2 separate regions of the Homo sapiens genome follow, and region 2 is linked to region 1. A link means that fine-mapping ties the variant in region 1 to the expression of a gene that starts in the linked region. Tissue or cell type: CD8 T cells. Region 1 holds a variant in brackets; the other region holds the start of a gene. All regions are shown on one strand. Distances are from middle to middle.

The links. PIP is the estimated chance that this variant, and not a neighbour inherited with it, causes the effect.
Region 2: HIBADH starts here. The variant in region 1 is fine-mapped to the expression of HIBADH in CD8 T cells (CEDAR, PIP 0.95). The same link has a PIP of 0.9 or more in CD4 T cells.

Annotation. Positions count from the first base shown.
Region 1 is chr7:27,520,918-27,531,165 of GRCh38, forward strand. HIBADH (3-hydroxyisobutyrate dehydrogenase) reads right to left here. Exons shown (of 8, transcript NM_152740.4): 8 at 4,525-5,455. The coding sequence ends at 5,297. Among named protein-coding and RNA genes, the nearest start is that of TSL, 90 kb to the right of the region's middle. RefSeq lists an enhancer at 6,091-6,668. The variant T/A (reference allele first, on the strand shown) is at 5,779.
Region 2 is chr7:27,657,213-27,667,460 of GRCh38, forward strand. HIBADH (3-hydroxyisobutyrate dehydrogenase) reads right to left here and starts at 5,671. Exons shown (of 8, transcript NM_152740.4): 1 at 5,486-5,671. The coding sequence starts at 5,576. All of the region lies in intron 2 of LOC105375211 (a long non-coding RNA gene), which reads left to right. RefSeq lists an enhancer at 5,408-6,225 and a silencer at 5,441-5,860.

The DNA.
Region 1 (10,248 bases):
TTTTAGAAGACAACAGTGCTGAACCGGTCACGGTGCCAGAAGGGGCGGCATTCCAAATGGAAGAAATGGCATGTGCAAATGTACTGAGGTGTGCAAAGCATGGCACGTTTGGGAAAAGACAAGTATTGTGGGCAGTGGTGCTGGTGAAATAGAAGCCCCAGCAGGATGGCTTTGGAGACCAGACTGTATCCTAGGCTCAAACATTCTAAACAGGGTTGGCCGGATTGGATTTCAGTCTTAGAAAGACCTCTCTTGCAGCAGTGCTCAGCAATTGGGAAATAAAACCAGGCTGGTGGCCAAGAAGCAGCTTTAAATCTAGAGTCAGAAAGCTTAGTAGCTGCCAATGGCTGGGGGCCGGGAGAATGAGCAGTGATTACAAATGGATGCACGGGATTTTGCAGGGGTGATGGAATGTTCTAAAACTGAATTGTGGTGAGGGTTGTAAAACTCTCAGTTTACGAAAAGCCATTCATTGTATAAAAGGAGCAAATTTCATTGTATGTACACTATACCTTTAAAAAGCTGTTAGGGAAAATAAAAGGTGTCGCTGCAGATACTGAAGTGCCCTAGATCAGGGGTCTCCAACCCCCGGGCTGAGGACCAGTACTGACCTGGTCCGTGGCCTGTTAGGAACTGGGTTGCGGGGCAGGTGAGTGGCCAGCCGGTGAGCAAGCATTACTGCCTAAGCTCTGCCTCCTGTCAGATCAGCAGCTGCATTACATTCTCATAGGATCCTGAACCGTATTGCGAACTGCACATGTGAGGGATCTAGGTTGTGTGCTCCTTACAAGAATCGAATGCCTGATGATCTGAGGTGGAACAGCTTCATCCCAAAACCATTCCTCCAACCACCACCCATGGAAAAACTGTCTTCCACAAAACCAGTCCCTGGTGCCAAAAATGTTGGGGACTGCTGCCCTAGATAAGAACTGGTGAGGGCCTATAATAGGCACTAGAGATTTAGAATTAGCTAAGGAGAATGGGTGGAGGAATGGAGGAGTCAGGGATGGGTCCTGAAAGCCTGGGAGGAGTCGTGGGATAGGACCAGAAGGAGAAGCAGGGCTTTGGGGGAAAATGAGGAGCTCAGGTTTTGATATGCTGAGTTCAGGTCTTGTGGAACATACACCTAGAGCAGCGTTTCTTAAACTTTGCCTGACTGGCATTTTGGGCAGGATAACTATTGTTGTGGGTGCTGTCCCGTGCATTATAAGAGGTTTAGCAACATTCTTGGCCTCTGCCCACTAAATGCCAGTAAAATGGACAACCAAAAATGTCTCCAGCCATTGCCATGTGTCCCCCCTGGCAAGCAAAACTGCCACAGTTGAGAACCACTTATCAAAAGATCTTAACTCATGATATTTTCCTTAGGCTTTTTAAAAATTGAGAGGTAATTCACTATTTACAAGTATACAACTCAGTGATTTTAAAATATATCCACAAAGTTGTGAACCACCACTATTAATTCCAGAACATTTTCATCACTCCCCCCAAAAAACTCCATATCCGTTAGCAGTCACTCCCCATTTCCCCCTCTCCAGTCCTTGGAAACCACTCATCTACTGTCTGTATGGATTTGCCTATTATCCAATACTTCAAATAAGTAGAATCATACAATATGTGGCCCTTTGCATCTGCCGCCTTTCACTTGGTATGTTTTTAAGTTCATCCATGTGGTAGCATGGATCAGTACTTTATTCCTTCGTATGGCCAAGCAATCTTCCATTGTGCAGATATGACAGTTTGTTCATCCAATCATCAGTTGGGGGATATTTGGATTGTTTCCACTTTTTAGCTATTATGAATAATGCTGCTATGAACATTTGTGTACAAGCTTTGTGTGGATATATTTTTTTCCTTATGCATCTAGGAGTGAAATTGCTGGATCATGTGCCAACACTGTTTAACCTTTTGAGGAACTACCGAGCTATTTTCCAAAGTGGCTGCACCATTTTATATTCCCAGCAGCAATGTATAAGGGTTCCAGTTTTTCCATATGCTGCTATCATGTGTGATTGTCCTTATATCTTTTGTTTTCATTTCCAGAAAGCATTTAATATTAAGCTAGATGGTTTATGACAACTTCATAGATGAGAAAATGAATGGTCAGTAGAGGGTGGCTTGTACAGGGTCACACTCAGAGGTAATTCCTTTCCAGCACAAATATTTTGTTCGTGTTGAAAACTGTATAATTGATTACAATTCTATTCTATCCTTCACGTAAGATGCTGACGGGCTGAAATGTGATCTGATCTGTTTTTGCTGGTTCCTTTAATTTGCAGAGATTTGGCCACAGTTAAACCCCTTCCCTCTCAACTACTCGAAAGGCAGCATTTAGCAAGTAGCCTCTCTGTTGTGCCATTACTTCCCCTCGTTACTGGATCATTCCACTTCCATCCGTATAATCCCATAACATTTCCTATTTTAAAAATATAATAAAACTCCTCCTGGTCCCTTATTTGCTGCCAATGTCTATCCCATTTGTCTGTTTTCCTCTGCAGCAAAGCTCTTCAAGAATTCTCTATACTTACTGTTTCCAATTCCTCTCCCACTCTCAATCCAACTCTCATTTCCAAGACTCCACCAAAACTCTTGAAAAAGTCACCAGTGATAGCTCTTTTGCCAAATCCAAATGATTCTCAGCCCTATTACTCAACTCACAGATCATCATTCCCTCCTTAAAATACTGTTTTCATTTGGCTCCTGGGACACTGCTCCCATGTTTTTCCCCTACTTTACTGATCTCTCTGCTTCAGTCTCATTTGCTTGTCCCCCCTCATTTTCCTAACCACTAAAGTTACAGTAACACAGGGCTCAGTCCTTGGACTGTTGTTCTTCTTTACTTAGATGTCTATTAAGGCATCTCATATAAATCTCTGATTTTTTTCTCCTAAACTTCCTACAATCCTCCCCAAATCTTCCCCCCATGATCTTCCCCATATAGGAAATGGCAACTTCTTTCTTCTGCTTTCTCAGGCCACTGACAGTGGGATTATCCCTGACTCCCTACTTTCTCTCTCATGCCATCCATCAGTTAGTGGCTCTGTTTTCTAGGTTCAGAATCTAACCACTTCTTGCCTCCTCCATCATTTTAACATTCTGGTCCCAGCTACCACCTCTCAACTGGGTTATTACTATTGCCTCCGAATTGGTCTCCTTGTTTCCAGCCTTGCTCCTACAGACTCTTCTCCACACAGCATCCAGAGTGATCCCTTTAAAAAAGTAGGTCAGATCACATCAATCTGGTGAAAAAGTTTCACAGGCTGCTTGTGATAGGCTGTTTGCAAAAAGGCCACCATAATGCCCCTCTTTGTGTCCACACTCTTATGCAGACCCCACATATGCTGATTCTGGGCTTGGCTATGACATTTGCTGTGGCCAAGGGGAAAGTACAAACATGAAGCAAGCAGAGGCTTAGAAAGTCAGGGCTTGTCCTATGCTGCTGCTGGGATGCTTCCACCACTATGTGAACAAATTCATACCAGCCTCCTGGAGAATGCATGAAAACATGGAGAGAAGCCCCAACCATTCCAGCTGTCCCAGCTGAGTAAAGCCAAACTAGACACTCTAGCTGCAGATGAGCTGGTCTAGGCCAGAATAATAATATGGCCAACCCACAGAATCTTGAAAAACAATACATGTTTGTTGTTTTAAGCCACTAAATTTTGGGGTGATTTGTTATCCAGCAAAAGCTAACTGATACATTGCCCATTTTGCTCAGAATAAAAGCCAGTGTCCTAACATACCCTGCAAGGCCCCATATGATCTGGCCACCCTCATTCTGTGCCACTTCACTTATAGCCTCCCTGTTATTCCTCATATTCAGTACTGTCCTACCTCAGGGCCTTGGTACTTTCTGTCCCCTTTGCCTGGAATGTTTGTTCCTCAGATACCTGCATTGCTTACTCCCTTACCTCTGCTCAATTGACACCTTATTGGGGAGAACTTTCCTTATCACCCTAAGAAAATACCCCTGGCACTCCCTATCCATCCCCGTTATCCTGCTTTTTCTTTTTAGTTCTTCTTATCTGAAAAATACATATTTCTTGTCTGTCACAAACACATGAGACACCAGAACTTATGCTCTGCAAGGGCAGAAATCTTGTGTCTTGTTCATCACTGTATCCCCAGCACTTATAACAGTGCCTGGAATTTTTTATCACCAGTAAAATGATGAAAGTAGTAATACTTCTGCCAAATTTGGTGTCTAGGTCTATTACCTGGAATGTTTCTAGAGGCTGAGGTGGGAAAAGTGGTGACTGTGCTCCATATTGGGGCATGTTACACTTAATGCTGGCTGAATTCCTAGAGAACTGATGACCTAAAAAACATTCAAACGAATACTCAATAAGGATTCAGGTAAAGCAGCAAAACACTAGCTTGCCACTGGCCAACTCAGAGCTTTGTTCCTTTTGACCTCCCCTCCTTTCTCTTTATTCCCATCCTTTCCCCATTAGTGTGAACATCAGTTTGTCAGAACATTAGTTCACCAAATGATGGGGAAGAAACAAAAACACCAAGAAAGTATTACCAGTATAGAAATTTATTTGAATTCAAAATAATATGGCTATATTTATAATAATATAATAATTATCTAAAGCAAATATCATCATTGGCTCTGAAATGCATCTAAAGATGTCATTCTTAAGTCAAAAAATACGTAGTAAGAATGAACAAGAAAGAAAAAAATATAAAAACAAGTCTGCTGAGTGTCGGGAGTTGGTGAGGGATATCCTACCATATTGTGACGGAGTCCAAATAGAAAACATGCAGCAACAGTTCTCCTGCTTTATCAGCTCCCTGGAAAATAAACCAGTAACCCTGGTAGTGCAGTAACCATTTGGTTAACAGGACAAACTTCCTGATGGACACAGATAGTAATTCACTGCATTTCCCTTCTCTAACTTCTCTCTTCACACCAATTCCTTTTCTTTCCTTTAAGATGGGTTTCATCCTGTTGACAAAAGATTTGGTTTTATTTGTAAAGTAAAGCAGATAATATCCTGATTGAAGTATTCAATGATTTAGTTGAGGATGCTTGGGGATCAAACTTTGTAAAAAGGTCAATTAAGCTAGTTAGCAGAGACTATCAGTGGCTTGCAGAAAAAAAATTCGGATAATATGTTTGTTAAAAAGACAAAAAGAATAAGCGGTGAAAAATCCTAGGGATTACTGTGACCTAGACAATCAAAAGCAGATAGGTGACCTTTGATTAAATCCATTTACTTGTGGAGTGAGCTAAAAGGAGGCTCCAAGACAGAGTTTGGTTCCCAACAGTGTCCGTGGCCAAAGGGCACACTCAGAAGGTCTCCTCCTCTCGTAGGAACTGGAACACGGATGAGAAGTCTTTCTTTGAGTAGCCCTTTGCACACATCATCCTGTAGATCTGATGGGCCAGACTGCCAAGAAGGATTGGGCTCTTTGTGCTGGTAGCAGAGTCTTGTGCCAATCCCAGATCCTAAATCAAACAGGAGGAGAGAACACGCTGAGACTGGTGGTAAAGGCTCTTTGGAACTGTGGTTCCTTATGTTTTGGTTTGAAAGAAGGAAAAATGTAATCTGAAAAAATAAGATACTTATAAATACTATGGTAAGTTAACATTTTTAAATAAGCGCTTTCATATAACTGCAAAATTGCTCCAGACAGAAACCTTGATTTCTGAGTGTCTCTTCGATTTTTCCACCTTCCACAATACCTGTTTGTTTTGTTCCACAGATTTGAAGAAAAAAAATTTCCCTGTGTAATCTTATCTGTGGAAATCTTTAAGACATAAATTTTTTT[T/A]AAAAAATTCTTAAATGAAAACAAGGAGAAATAAAACTGCAAAACAGGAAATACAGTTGCAAATATTACTTCATCCAATAAATATTTGAAGTGTGCTGACAATGTGCCAGAAGCTGGGATAAAATGATGAGCAAAACAGCCACAGCCCACCCAAACTCACATTGTGTTAAGGAGAAAGACAATTAAATAAGCATGGTATAATTGGATAGGAGGAGTACTATCATGGGATCCAAGGAAGCAGGGTCTGGGGTGCTGGGAAAGGTGAAGAAAAAGAAGACAGTGAAGCACAGACCTGGAGCCAGGTGAAAACATGGGGGTGGCAGGGAGGTGGTGGGCAAGGAAGAATGATCCATCCTGGCAGACAATGTGACAGCAAATGTGAAGCAAATGTGAAGGTTTCCAAGAGACAGAACAAGAGGGAGAAGTGAGTTCAGCACGATGAAAGCAAGGAGAGGGGGATGGGAAAGAAAATCAGTCTGGTTGAGGCAAGCAAAAGCCAAGGCATCTGGGGGCTTGTCAGACAAGTTGCAGGGATGGACTTTAATCTCCAAGTAACTGAAACTACAAAAGCTTCAAAGGAGAAGTGACACAATCAGGATTTTACATTTTAGAAAGCTCACTCTTGCTTTGATATGGAAAATAAACTGGAGAAGATCAGGCTGAAAGACAAGATCAGTTAAGATGTATTTGTGGTACAACACAAACGAGGCTCAGCCAAGGTACAGCTAGCTGGGGAGGAGGGAGCTGGATGAATTCAAGGCATATTCAAGAAGCAGAATGAACAAACGTCATGGGGAATGAGGGAGAGTAAGCCAAGTATGGGCACATCTTGTCTTAGTGTGCTTCACTTTATCATGCTTCACAGATAATGCATGTTTGTTTTTGTATTTTAATAATTGAAGGTTTGTGGCAATCCTGCATTGAGCAAGTCTATCAGCACTGTTTTTCCAACAGCATGTGCCCAGTTCATGCAGCTGTCACATTTTGGTAATTCTCACAATATTTCAAACTTTTTCATTACTATTATTTCTGTTACGGTGATCTGCAATCAATCAGTAACTTTTTTTTTTTTGAGACGGAGTTTCTCTCTTGTTGCCCAGGCTGGAGTGTAGTGGCGCAATCTTGGCTCACAGCAACCTCTGCCTCCTGGGTTCAAGTGATTCTCCTCCCGCAGCCTCCTGAGCAGCTGGGATTACAGGCATTTGCCACCACCACACCCAGCGTTTTTTTTTTTTTTTTTTTTTTTTAGTAGAGACAGGGTTTCACCATGTTGGCCAGGCTGGTTTCAAACTCCTAACTTCAGGTGATACACCTGCCTCGGCCTCCCAAAGTGCTGGGATTACAGGCATGAGCCACTGTGCCCAGCCGATCAGTGATCTTTGATGTTACTATTGAAACTGTTTTGGGGTGTCAGAAAGCGCACATAAGATGGCAAACATAATCGATAAATGTGGTACACATGTGTTCTGACTGCCCAGCCACTGAATGGCAGCTCTCTCTCTCTTACCCCTCAGGCCTCCCTATTCCCTGAGACACAAAATATTGAAATTAGGCCAATTAATAACCCTACAATGGCCTCTTAAGTGTTCAAATGAAAAGAGGAGTCAGCTGTCTCACACTTTAAATCAAAAGCTAGAAATGATTAAGCTTAGTGAGGAAGGCATGTAGAAAATCAAGACAGGCTGAAAGGCAGGCCCATTAAAACAAACAGTAGAATGCAAAGAAAAAATTCTTGAAGAAAATTACAAATGCTATTCCAGTGAACACATGAATGATAAGTGAAACGGCCTTACTGCTGATAGGGAGTAAGTTTGAGTGGTCTGGATAGATCAAACCAGCCAAAACATTCCCTTAAACCAAAGCTTAACCCAGAACAAGGCCCTAACTTTCTTCAATTCTGTGAAGGCTGAGAGAGGTGAGGAAGCTGCAGAAGACGTGTGAAGCTAGTAGTGATTAGTTCATGAGGTTTAAGCAAAGAAGCCATCTCCATAACATAAAAGTGGAAGGTGAAGCAGCAACTGCTGATGGAGAAACTGCAGGAAGTTAGTTATCCAGAAGATCCAGCTATCACTGATGAGGGTAGCCACACTAAACAACAGATTTTCAGTGTAGATGAAACAGCCTGCTGTTGGAAGATATCATCTAGGACTTTCGCAGCTAAAGAGAAGTCAATGTCTGTTTCCAAAGCATCAAAGGACAGGCTAACCCTCTTGTTAAGGGCCAGTGCAGCTGGGGACTTGAAGTTGAAGCCAATGCTCATTTACCATTCCAAAAATCCTAGGGCCCTTAAGAATTATGCTGAATCTACTCTGCCTGTGCTCTCCAAATGGAACAGCAAAGTCTAGAAGAAAGCACATCTGTTTATGGGATGGTTTACTGAATATTTATTTTAAGCCCACTGTTGAGACCTACTGGTCAGAAGAAAAGATTCCTTTCAAAATACGACTGCTCACTGACAGTACACGTGGTCACCCAAGAGTGCTGATGGAGATGTACAGGGAGATTAATGTTGTTTTCATGTCTATGAACACAACATCCATTCTGTAGCCCATGGATCAAAGAGTCATTTTTCAACTCTTATGTGAGAAGTATTTCATAAGGCAATAGCTACCATATATAGTGATTCCTCTGACAGCTCTGGGCAGAGTAAACTGAAACCTTATGAAAATAATTCACCATTCTAGATGCCATTAAGAATATTTGTGATTCATGGGAGGAGGTCAAAATATCAACATTAACAGGAGTTTGAAAGAAGCTGATTCCAATGCTCATGGATAACTTTGAGGCCTTTAAGACTTCAATGGAGAAAGTCACTGCAGACGTGGTGGAAATAGGAGAACTAGAATTAGAAGTGGAGCCTGCAGATGTGACTGAATTACTACAATCTTGTGCTAAACTTGAAGGGATGAGGAGTTGCTTCTTATGGATGAGCAAAGAAAGTGGTTTCTTGAGATGGATCTACTCCTGGTGAAATGACAGAAAGGATTTAGAATATTACACAAACTTAGTTGATAAAGTAGCATCAGGGTTTGAGAGGATTGCCTCCGTTTTTGAAAGAAGTTCTACTGTGGGTAAAATGCTATCAAACAGTAGCACATAAATCTTCTGTGAAAGGATGAGTAAATCAATGCAGTAAACTTAAACTTCATTACTGTCCTATTTTAAGAAATTGTCATAGCCACCCAACCTTCAGCAACCGCCACCCTGGTCAATCACCATTCATCAACCTCAAGGCAAGACCTTCCACCAGCAAAAAAGGACTATATGACTCACTGAAGGCTCAGATAATTGTTAGCTTTTTTAGCAATAGAGCATTTTAAAATTAAGATACGTATATTGTTTAGACATAATGCTAATGCACACTTAATAGACTATGGCATAGTATAAACGTAATTTTTATATGTACTGGGAAACCAAAAAATTTGTGTGACTTGTTGTGGTTGTCTGGAACTGAACCCACAATATCTCCAAGGTATGCTTGTGTGGTATCTAGGTATATGTATTCTTTTTCTTTTTTTTTTTCTATTTGAGACGAAGTCTCACTCTGTTGCCCAGGCTGGAGTGCAATGGTGCTATCTCAGCTGACTGCCATCTCCACCTCCCGGGTTCAAGCGATTCTCCTGCCTCAGCCTCCTGAGTAGCTGGGCTTACAGACACGCACCACCACGCCCGACTAATTTTTTTTATTTTTAGTAGAAACTGGGTTTCACCATGTTAGCCAGGCTGGTCTCGAACTCCTGACCTCAGGTGATCTGCCCTCCTCGGCCTCCCAAAATGCTGGGATTAAAGGCATGAGCTATCGCGCCTGGCCGTATTCTTACTTTTTAATCAGGAAAAACAAACAAACAAACAAACAAACAAAAACCAACCCTCAACTGGGAGAAAATAAGCACTGCAGAAATCTGAAAGTTAGCTGGTCTAAAAATTATTTTCTGTAGTTGAGAACATAGACTTTCTAAAGTTGAGATCTCAAATAAGAGAAGGATGACAGTTTGCTTTTCCAATGACTTAACTAGTTTTTATATATAAATCCATATATTAAAATCTTAAAGCAGGAAGATGTATTTGGAAATCTATTATCAATGGGAAAATCCTCTCTTCGTGATGCATATATGCACTGCCAGTGTATTATTAACAATGAGAAAATTCTCACTGTTCTCATTTAAGAAGTTGGTAAATTAACATAAATTAATGGTGAACGAAATTTTACCGGCTCATATAAATAAACCCAAGTGCGCACACACACACACACGCACACACATACACACACACACATGGTCTGGCCCATTCTTCTCAACCAAAAGGCCAGGAATAAAAATGAACAAGATAAGGATTTTCATCTAAGTTAGGTTTTTACTCATTTTCAGTGAGAGTGAATATTCTAGTAATTTTGCCTCTTACCTGAGACATATGCTTTATTAAGAGAAAGAGAAGGAAGGTGTTATTGGACCGTGAAACGTTTTTCCTTCT
Region 2 (10,248 bases), 140 kb after region 1:
ATGGATTTATCCAGAAATACAACAAGAGGCTGAAAAAAACAGTATTAGGCATCAGTGAAATTCCTAATTATAAATAAGTTTGAGAATGGGTACAGACAAACCTAGAGAGAGACCTTATGAAATGAGGAAACAAGAAAGCATGTCTATGTACTTGGAGGAAAAGGGAGGGAGTCAAAGGACCAGGTGATGAGCATTATGTAACAGTATGTTTGTTAGAACAAGAATCACAGAGGAGGTTAAATCAACCAGAGACTAGTTCTGCTGGTGAAATCTCAGCAAGAGAATCACTCCTACTACTAAGATCCTAGAAAAACTGAAGTAGAGTGCTGATGTTACTGAAGCTGAAGAAGTTAAGAACAATGAGGCCATGTTGGATGGGCCAACATGAATGTGAATGAAGATAAAGTTTTCAAAGGACTCAGCTCTCTTTATTTCATCTTTCTCTGTGGCAAAGTTAAAGAAAGGCCAGTATAATTAGATGACCTGATGTCAAAAGAGAATAAGTTATCTATTGATGGTGATAATGTTTAAAATTTTCTCTGAGTTGGGAAGGCCTAGGTTCCTATCCTGATAAGTTCACTTCTTAGATGTATACCATTGAAGTTACAAGTTACTTAACTTCTCTAGACAACATTTGATCAATAAAAGTACCTACTTCAGAAGATTATTGTAAAGATTACTTGAGATGATGCATATAAAGCGTTAAACAGTGCCTGGCACACGATTGATAATAAGTATTAGTTACTCTTACCAAAAATGGTCAAGTTGTAGCAGTACAGGTCAAGTCCTATGCCAACTGCCCCTTTTTGCCTAGTGGGTTACAAGAGCCAAAGAGATAGAAAAAAGTATAGATGACTGTAGGAGAAGCCCTGTATCTGGGGAAAGAAAGCTTTTAGTTAAGGTGAAACACCTGAATAAGCGCTTGGCAAATATAAAATAATTTGCACCCAAAGGGGCAGAAATCCATGAGTATAATGGAATGATTATTGCCCTAAAAACTCTCAAACCTAAATAATGCATCTCTCTTTAAATAACTTCTGACAGTAGTGCGTGGAAAAAGTAGAGTTAAAACATAAATAAAACCAAGCTGGGAGAAAATCAATCAACCAAATACAAAGGTGATACTGGTTCACTGGTTAAGAAACTAGCATTAGTGTCTATTACTGAGGACGAATGAAAAGAAACTAGCCAGAAAACTTGGCAAAGTTTGTTTCTAAATTTATAGATGCAAATTTACCGATTATGACCTCTTTCTCCAATGTAACAAGGGGAGTTATCCGTATCTTGATAACCTTAAGTGCTATCAAAAAGCAGGTTTCACTAAGTGTCAAAATGCAAAAATTGGTAACAAGTTAATTATTTTACATTTCTGAGGCTTCTTTTCTATTCAAAGTAATGCATTTTCATTGTAGAAAACTAGAATGAAAAAGTATACAGTTGTAAGGGGAAGCAATCTCATTACACAAAAATAAAAAAAACATTTTGCATGGACTTTCAGTCTTTTGACTGCATTTTTCATTATATCATAAGGTTATATTTTCTATACAATGTATGTCTATTTTATCACATAATACATTTTTTATATCTATTTTATCACATAATACTACGTCATAAGCACTCTATCTGCTTTACTATTAACAGTTACTAAACTAAGGGTGACGACTTTCTCTATAAAGGCCTTTACGGTTTCAGTCAACTTATTTTAGTAATAAATACGCTCCTTATGTAATTTCACAAGTTTAGGGTCAACTTTTAGGCCCCGGACCATGAGCAGCTTTTCAGAACTTCATGTGCAGCCCTAGAAGCTAATGTAAAGGGAAAAACTGCCATTATATATTTGATTTATCCAATGAGTTATGCTACTTTGAAAGTAAATTTCACATATACAAAAAGGACCAATAATATTAAAAATTGTATTCCTGTTTCTATACATGATGCTAATTTTTCCATTCTACCTTTGGTCAGGTGGTCACCTCAAGATGATCTGATGTGATTTATTTTTCCATGTACAAGCTGTAGAGTCACAACGTGACATTTTGTAGAGGGCCTATAGCTGTAGATTTTCTTCTCTGTACAAATAAGTCTGAAACTAAACTTAATTACCTTCTAAAATAACATACACAATTTTATCAAACAGGTGATGAAATAGTAATACATGTACACTTTAACATTTCTCATTCTTCTATTTCCTTTTCAATGCTTTAAGTATTTTAAAATTAGGCTTAGGCACAGTGGCTCATGACTGTAATCCCAGTACTTTGGGAGGCTGAGGCAGGAGGATCAGTTGACCCCCAGAGTTCAAGACCAGGCTGGGCAACATGGTGAGACCCCATCTCTACAAAAAAAATAAATAAATAAATAAAGCCAGGTGTGGTGGTGTGCACCTGTGGTCCCAGCTACTTGGGAGGCTGAGGCAGGGGGATTGCTTGAGCCCACGAGGTTGAGGCTGCAATGAGCCATGATTGCACCACTGCACTCCAGCCTGGACAAGAGAGAGAGAGAGACCCCATCTCAAATAAACAAACAAACAAACAAACAAACATTTAAAAATTAAGATGTGGCAGGCTGGGCACAGTGGCTAATGCCTGTAAGCCCAACACTTTGGGAGGTCAAGGCAAGAGGATGGCTTCACGCCAGTAGTTCTAGACCAGCGTAGTAGGCAACTAGCCTTGTCTCAAAAAACATTTTTTTTTAAATTAGCTAGGTATCGTGGTGCACCCTGCAATCCTAACTACTTGGGAAGCTGAGGCGGAAGATCACTTGAGTACAGGAGTTCAAGGTTGCAGTGAGCTAAGTAGGTGCCATTGTACTCCTGCCTGGACAACACGGGGAGACCTGTCTCTAAAATGTATTTATAAAAAAGTTAAAAAGATGTGCTACTAACCGGCAACTTTCAGGTTTCATTTTTTTAAACAGTAAATTATATAGCTCCTTATAATATTATCATTCATATGATATAAACATCTTAAACATACTACAAATATCCAACAGAATTCAGAACATCACACATTACTATCTGAACATGGTTCTTTTTCTTAATGTCATTTGACTCCAAACTTGCAGGCAGATTTTTTTCTACTCTTTAAGAATCTAATGTCAGAAAAGTTAACACTTTTGCAGTAAACTAAAATTAACAGAAATTTAAATGTTTAAAACAATTCCAAAGAAAGGCCGGGCACAGTGGCTCACGCCTGTAATCCCAGCACTCTGGGAGGCCAAGGCGGGCGGATCACGAGGTCAAGTGATAGAGACCATCCTGGCTAACATGGTGAAACCCCGTTTCTACTAAAAAATACCAAAAAACTAGCCGGGCGTGGTGGCAGGCGCCTGTAGTCCCAGGTACTCCGGAGGCTGAGGCAGGAGAATGGCGTGAACCTGGGAGGCGGAGCTTGCAGTGAGCTGAGATTGCGCCAATGCACTCTAGCCTGGGCGACAGACAAAGACTCCGAGGGAAAAAAAAAAATTTTTTTCAAGAGAAAAAAAAATTGCTTAAGTGATTTAACCACTTCATCACAAAAGAACTATTTAAAATTTATCAGAAATCTATATTCTGACAATTACCTTTGGGCCAAAGAACCCAAAGTACAAGACCATATGCCAAAGTAGTCTAATCAGCACTCTGAGGTAGGCCCTCCCAGTTTACAGAGGCACGTATTACAGTCTTAGGCCTCAGGCTCTTTCACCATGAATTGGTAAGAACTTTCATAACTCTAAAAGGTACATCAAGGGTTCATTAAAATACCATTAGAACACCTTGTAAAACCACTAAACAGCAAATATGTCTTCCTTGGCTAATGGGAACTGAAAGAATTGTGAATTCATGTGAAAACTGGTGCTACTGTGGAAAAGTGTCTATTCTTTTAGGGTTATCTCAAAAGTCGGAAGCATTTTTGTAGCTCAATATATGAAGCTCAAACAGTGGTTACATTCAAGTTTGGCATATTCTGAGTTTTTATCTTGTTACTGTGGTTCTGTATCAGACATCTGGTCTCTTGCATCTCACCGAGCCTCTGTTCTTCTCCAGCCAGAAAGGAAATTCAGAGGTTTCACTGAGGGGGAGAATGGGAAGCTGTTAAGAATTGTAAGAGAAAGTTCTTACAATTCCTGGCCAGCCACAGTGGTTCATGCCTATAATCCCAACGCTTTGGGAGGATCACTTGAGCGCAGGAGTTCAAGACCAGCCTGGGCAACATGGCGAAACTCCGTCCCTACTAAAAATACAAAAATTGGACGGGCGTGGTGGCACATGCCTGTAATCCCAGCTACTCGGGAGGCTGAGGTGGGAGGATCACCTGAGCCCAGGAGGTCGAGACTGCAGTGAGCAGTGTGACTGGGCCACTGCACTCCAGCCTGGGCGACAGAGACCCTGTCTCAAAAAAAAAAAAAAAAAAAAAAAAGGGCGGGGGGCCAAGGGGCTCAAATCCTAACCCACTATTTTTTTTTTAAGCAAAGATTAGAAAAAATTAATGCCAAGGTTTTTTTTGTTATTAATCCTCAGTATGATCTTGCTAAACGATGCATTGTTACAACTCTCAAACTTTCAGTTTGAGGAAGACAACGGCAGTGCCCCCACAAATCAACCAATTTTTCAATTAAAGAGGAGTCCTGGTGTGATAGAAAGTTAAGGAATTAGGAACAACTGATAACAACTTTCTAGGTCTTGCTGGGAATATCCTGATTCACTCATCCAAGGGGCCTCATGTCCCTCGTGCGGAGTATGAAAGACTGTATTAGATCTCCGTGGATCTTCATCCTGGCTCTAAAAACTGCCTCTTTGTAAGTTCATGGCTAGCTTCCACAATTTACCATGGTATGAGAGGAGGGAGGCAGGATTAATTCTGCCCACAATCTTGAGGACGCTGAACGTGTTTTGGTTCATAATTTGACAAAAATGACATTTTTTTAGGTTACAGTAGAGGGGGGAAGCCCGTCTTGCTGGTCAAGGGTGACTGAAACTTTGCTGAAAGACTTACTGCCTGGCTTGTACAGCCACCGCTTGTGTAATAAGGCCATCCCCTCGGACTCAGGTGGTTAAACATCAGGCCCTGCTGCCCAAGTGTGTCCCCAACCCAAGGTGCACCCTGGGGGCGCTGAAAGACCAGGGGTCGCTGGGGTGAGTGCGGGTTGCTCCTGGAGTTGGGCGCTCCAAACGTCCTCGGAGTCCTAACTCCAAAGCAGCATGCCGGGGTCCCAAATACTCTCTTCTCTTCAGCCCAAGCTCTTCCCCACCTCTTCCTAAATCCCGAAAAGGGCGCTGAACCCGTTCATCAGGAGCCCGGGAGAAAGGGAGGGAAGGCAGAGGGGGGTACTCGCGGAGTGAGTGGCGGCCGCAGAAAAGGACAGGCCTTTAGTACCAGCCAAAATATTGTTTTTTAAGCCCCAGCCCAACCGCAGGGCCTCCCGAGAAAAGACTTCTTCGGCCGTCTGGACAGAAGAAGCGAGCGGCCGAAAGAAGGACAAGGGGGAGGAGGCGTGAGGTCCTTACCCGCTGCAAAGCTGCCGGCTGCCGGCCGCAGCCGCCGGCTCCAGTACCGGAGACCGGAGGCAGCTCCGAGGAGCCGTAAGGAGGCTGCCATGCTGCGCCCGCCCCTCTCCCCGCGGTGACCTCCGCCGCCTCCCGGAGGGCCCACAGACTGCGAGCGTGTGCAGCGGGACTGGCTGGCTCGCCCACGGAGAAGGGCGCGCGCGCACGCGCTCTCACCGCTCGGGGGCGGGTGCCCACGCGCGAGGGAAGGAGCGCGGAGCCGAGAGGAGCGGCCTGACGCGGCAGGGCCTGTCAATCCCTTTACGGACAGGGAAGCAGACCAATCAGAATTCCCAGGTCCGCAGCTGTGCGAAGGACCAATAAGAGGCCTTTTTGAACAGTGACGCCAGGCGCCCTGGCGCTGCCCCCAAGCTCGTGCCTCATTTACAGCCTGCGGGCGGGAGTCTCCTTGTTTACCAAAGCAGAGGGCGTGTGGGAGGCGGGGGCCGTCGCTCGCTCCCGCCTCCTCGGAAACCTTGTCCCCACAACCGCTGCGTGTTAAAAAGGACAAAACTGACTCGCAGCTTGAAAAACACTCAGAAAGCTACCATGTGTGTAATAACTTTTAAATTCATTTGATTTTACTTAACACAACAGTTTCTCAATACTAAAAATAGTAGGAAAAGAAGTTGGTAACATTATCTTTGAAGGGAAGAGTTACTAGAAACTTGCACTTTCTATTTCAAGGCATATTTCTCTAATCTTTGAAAATTCTACACCCTAAATCCATTTTGTAAGCAAAACTAAATATAAAATCCAGAAAGTAGTAGTATATGTATGTGTATTAGAAAGACCTTTTTTTTTTTTGGAGACGGAGTCTCTCTGTCACCCAGGCTGGAGTGCAGTGGCGCGATCTCGGCTCACTGCAATCTCCGCCTCCCGGGTTCAAGTGATTCTCCTGCTTCAGCCTCCGGAGTAGGTGAGGTGGGACTATAGGCCTGCGTGCGCCACCACACCCGGCTAATTTTTTTGGCACTTTGAGTAGAGGCGGGGTGTCGCCATTTTGCCTAGGCTGGTCTCAAACTCCTGGCGTCAAGTGATCCGCCCGCCTCGGCCTCCCAAAGTGCTGGTTATTACAGGCGTGAGCCACTGCGCGGTGCAGAGAGACAGACATTTAGTCATTCTTCTGTCAATGCTTAGTGTACATATTTGAGTCTGTAAACCCCTTGGGGGTAATTGCAGGCCTTCTCATCTCCACTGACTCCACCAAAGGGTTGGAAGCCATGACCACACCAAAGCAAGACTATAGCCTTTGGAGAATGGCAATACAGCAGGAAAGAGAATGTGTATGGAGTAGCTAGGGAAATGCGAACCCCAATCTAAGTAGCACAATCAACAAAATTTGACTTTGACCTTTTTTTCAACTCAGTAACCCATGGAGTTGAAAGCAAAGGAATTGGATCATTTCCATCTGGGCTCTTTTCATGTTTCTGGGCATGCTGGCAACGTTTCCAAAAACTTAAAAACTTGTACAGAGTGCAAGGTCCCTATCTGTAACTGGGAGGAAGTTAATGCCCTTCTTTGACCATCACTCCACCCCAACCCTCTACCCAACACTAAATGAAAAGAAGGAAGGAAAGGGACGAAGGGAGGGAGGGAGAAAAAACTCATTTCAACAATTAGACCTTCTCCTAGATTTGGGTCCCCACCCCTACTAGGGGTAAATTAGTTTCTGGAGCATTTCCCACCTGTGCCTCTCTTCCTGGTTTCGTCAGGTTTTAGCTGGAATAGATCTCCTGCAGGCAACAAATGTGGGCCTACAGGTTTCTTTTTCTTTTTCTTCCTCCAGCACTACAGGTTTCTATAATTAACTCCTGAACTGCAATTGGTCTTTCAACTGTGTCTCCTCCAAGAAGCCCTGCATTGTCTTCTCCAACAATGTCTCCTCCAAGAAGCCCTACATTGATTCATAAACTAAGGAATTTTCATAGGTTTCCATGATTTTAAAGAAGCGTTATGAATTTTTAAGTAATTCTTACTGTTTGAAGGTGCTTGCAGATATTATTGTACTGGCAAATGCAGTTCCTGCCTATGGCTGGTTAGCTTTCTTCATTTGATTGCCCTCCTGATGCCCTTGTTTGAAAGGCACTGCAACTCCTCCCTGAGTCTTTGCCACGCATTTTTGTTTGTAATTGTTTCAATGCCTTATAGTGGCCCCTGACTTCCGCTTCCAGGAAGATGGAGTAGATAGGTTTCTCCCTATTCTTCTAAGTACAACTAAAAACTCAACATTATATATAAGATAAACATAGGGAGACTTTGAAAGGTGGAGAGAAGTCACACTGGCTAGGGTCCAGAGAGCAACACGGTGGGAAGTTCCTTGGGTTTTCATGTAGCCTTATATACCCCAAACTGGGTGCTGGAGAAGCCAAAACCAGAAACCCCAAAATGCCAGGAAGCATAGATAGACAAAAAGTGCCCCAATAAAAGGCTGCTCTTTCTAGCCAAGTGATGAAAAAGGAGTGGCCTAGCAAGAAAGGAAACATTTAGAAGATAATCACTCCACTGTAGACAAACAATACACACATACATACACACACTGACCCCACCCCATAAAGCAAAGGCTGAGTTGGGAGCCTAGACTTCCACACTCTCCAGGTTGTGATGAGACACCCCAGCATCCTAACACCCCAATCGCTCTACTCCTCAACCCCTCTAAGGTGATGTCAGAGAAAACCAAAGAGAGGTATGGGATTTTCATCTTCAACTGGGCAGTAACAAGTAATCCTCCACACACATCCTTCCCTACTCTCAGTGTCACTGGAAACCACAGGGCGACCCTGGATTTCCACTCCTACCTTACAGTGGTGAGGTACCCCTCCCTTTCCCTGCTTAGATGGTGTAATTGGAGGTGTATTGGAGAGTCAGAGCTTTCATCACTGCCCAATGGTAAGGATGTCACACCCCTTCCCCTCCATGGTGTCACTGGAGGCTACATGGGGGCAGTAAGGAGCCATTCCAAGCCCTCTCAACTAGGGAAGTATCAGTGGACAACTAGTGGGGAGCTGAAACTCCCACCATTGCCCAGCAGTAACAAGGAACCACCCACCCTTGGTGTCAACAGAGGTGGAATAAGGAACCTAGACTTCTACTACCAGTTGCCATTTACAAGTTGATGCCCCCTGCCAGAGCAGTGTCAAGAAAAACTAGTTAAAATAAAAGGTTTAAATAATATCCAAAATATCATAATACCCAAATGTCCAGATTTCAACAAAAAATCACTCATGATACCAAATTTCAATTAAAAAATGACTCATGATTCCAAAACCCAGGAAGATTTCAAGCTGAATAAAAAAGACAATAGATGCCAACACTGAGATGACAAGTTAAAATTATCTAACAAAGATTTGAAAGCATCCATCAGAAAATATTTCAAGAAGCAATTAAAACATGCTTGAGGCCAGGCATGGTGGCTCACACCTGTAATCTTAGCACTTTGGGAGGCCGAGGCTGGCAGATCACTTGAGGTGAGGAGTTCAAGATCAGCCTGGCCAACATGGTAAAACCCCATCTCTTCCAAAAAAATACAAAAATTACCCAGGTGTGGTGGTGGGCACCTGTAATCCCAGCAACTCAGGAGGCTGAGGCAGGAGAATCACTTGAACCCAGGAGGCGGAGGTTGCAGTGAGCTATCACGCCACTGCACTCCAGCCTGGATGGCAGAGTGAGACTCCTTCTCAAAAAGTAAAATAAAACAATAAAACATGCTTGAATTAAATAAAAAGAAATCTCAGCAAAGAAACAACATATAAAGAAGAAATAAATGGAAATTTTAAAACTGAAAAAATGCAAGAAATACAATTTTTTAACTCAACAGCAGAATAAAGAAAAGAATCACTGAGCTAGAAGATAGAACAGTAGAAACTATCTAATCTAAACAGAGAGAAACTAGACTGGGATTTAAAAAGCTACGAAGCGCTGGGCGAGGTGGCTCAAGCCTGTAATCCCAGCACTTTGGGAGGCCAAGGCGGGCGGATCACGTGGTCAGGAGATCGGGACCATCCTGGCTAATACGGTGAAACCCCGTCTCTACTAAAAATACAAAAAAATTAGCCAGGTGTGGTGGCGGGCGCCTGTAGTCCCAGCTACTCGGGAGGCTGAGGCAGGAGAATGGCGTGAACCCAGGAGGTGGAGCTTGCAGTGAGCCGAGATTGTGCCACTGCACTCCAGCCTGGGCGACAGAGCGAGACTCCGTCTCAAAAAAAAAAAGCCACGAAGCTCAGGGGCATGTGTTGTGACTCTTAACAAAAGATCTAACATTCAGCTGGGTGTGGTGGCCCACGCCTGTAATCCCACTTTGGGAGGCCCAAGCAGGTGGATCACCTGAGGTCAGGAGTTCAAGACCAGCCTGGCCAACATGGTGAAACCTCGTGTCTACCTAAAATACAAAAATCAGCTGGGCATGGTGGTGGGCGCCTGTAATCCCAGCTACTCAGGAGGCTGAGGCAGGAGAATCGATTGAACCTGGGAGCAGGAGGTTGCAGTGAGCCGAGATCGCGTTACTGCACTCCAGCCTGGACAACAAGAGTGAAACTCCGTCTCAAAAAAAAAAAATCTAACATTCCTGTCATCAGAATCTCAGAATCTGGGAAGAAGAGGAATAAGACTTTCCCAACAATACCCACACTATCTAATCATTTTTACGCCTATTCCTAAGATATCATTCTCTCTGTACTCACCTCCCTGACAATGCAGTACTCTTTCCCTTTCCCAGAGCACTCTGA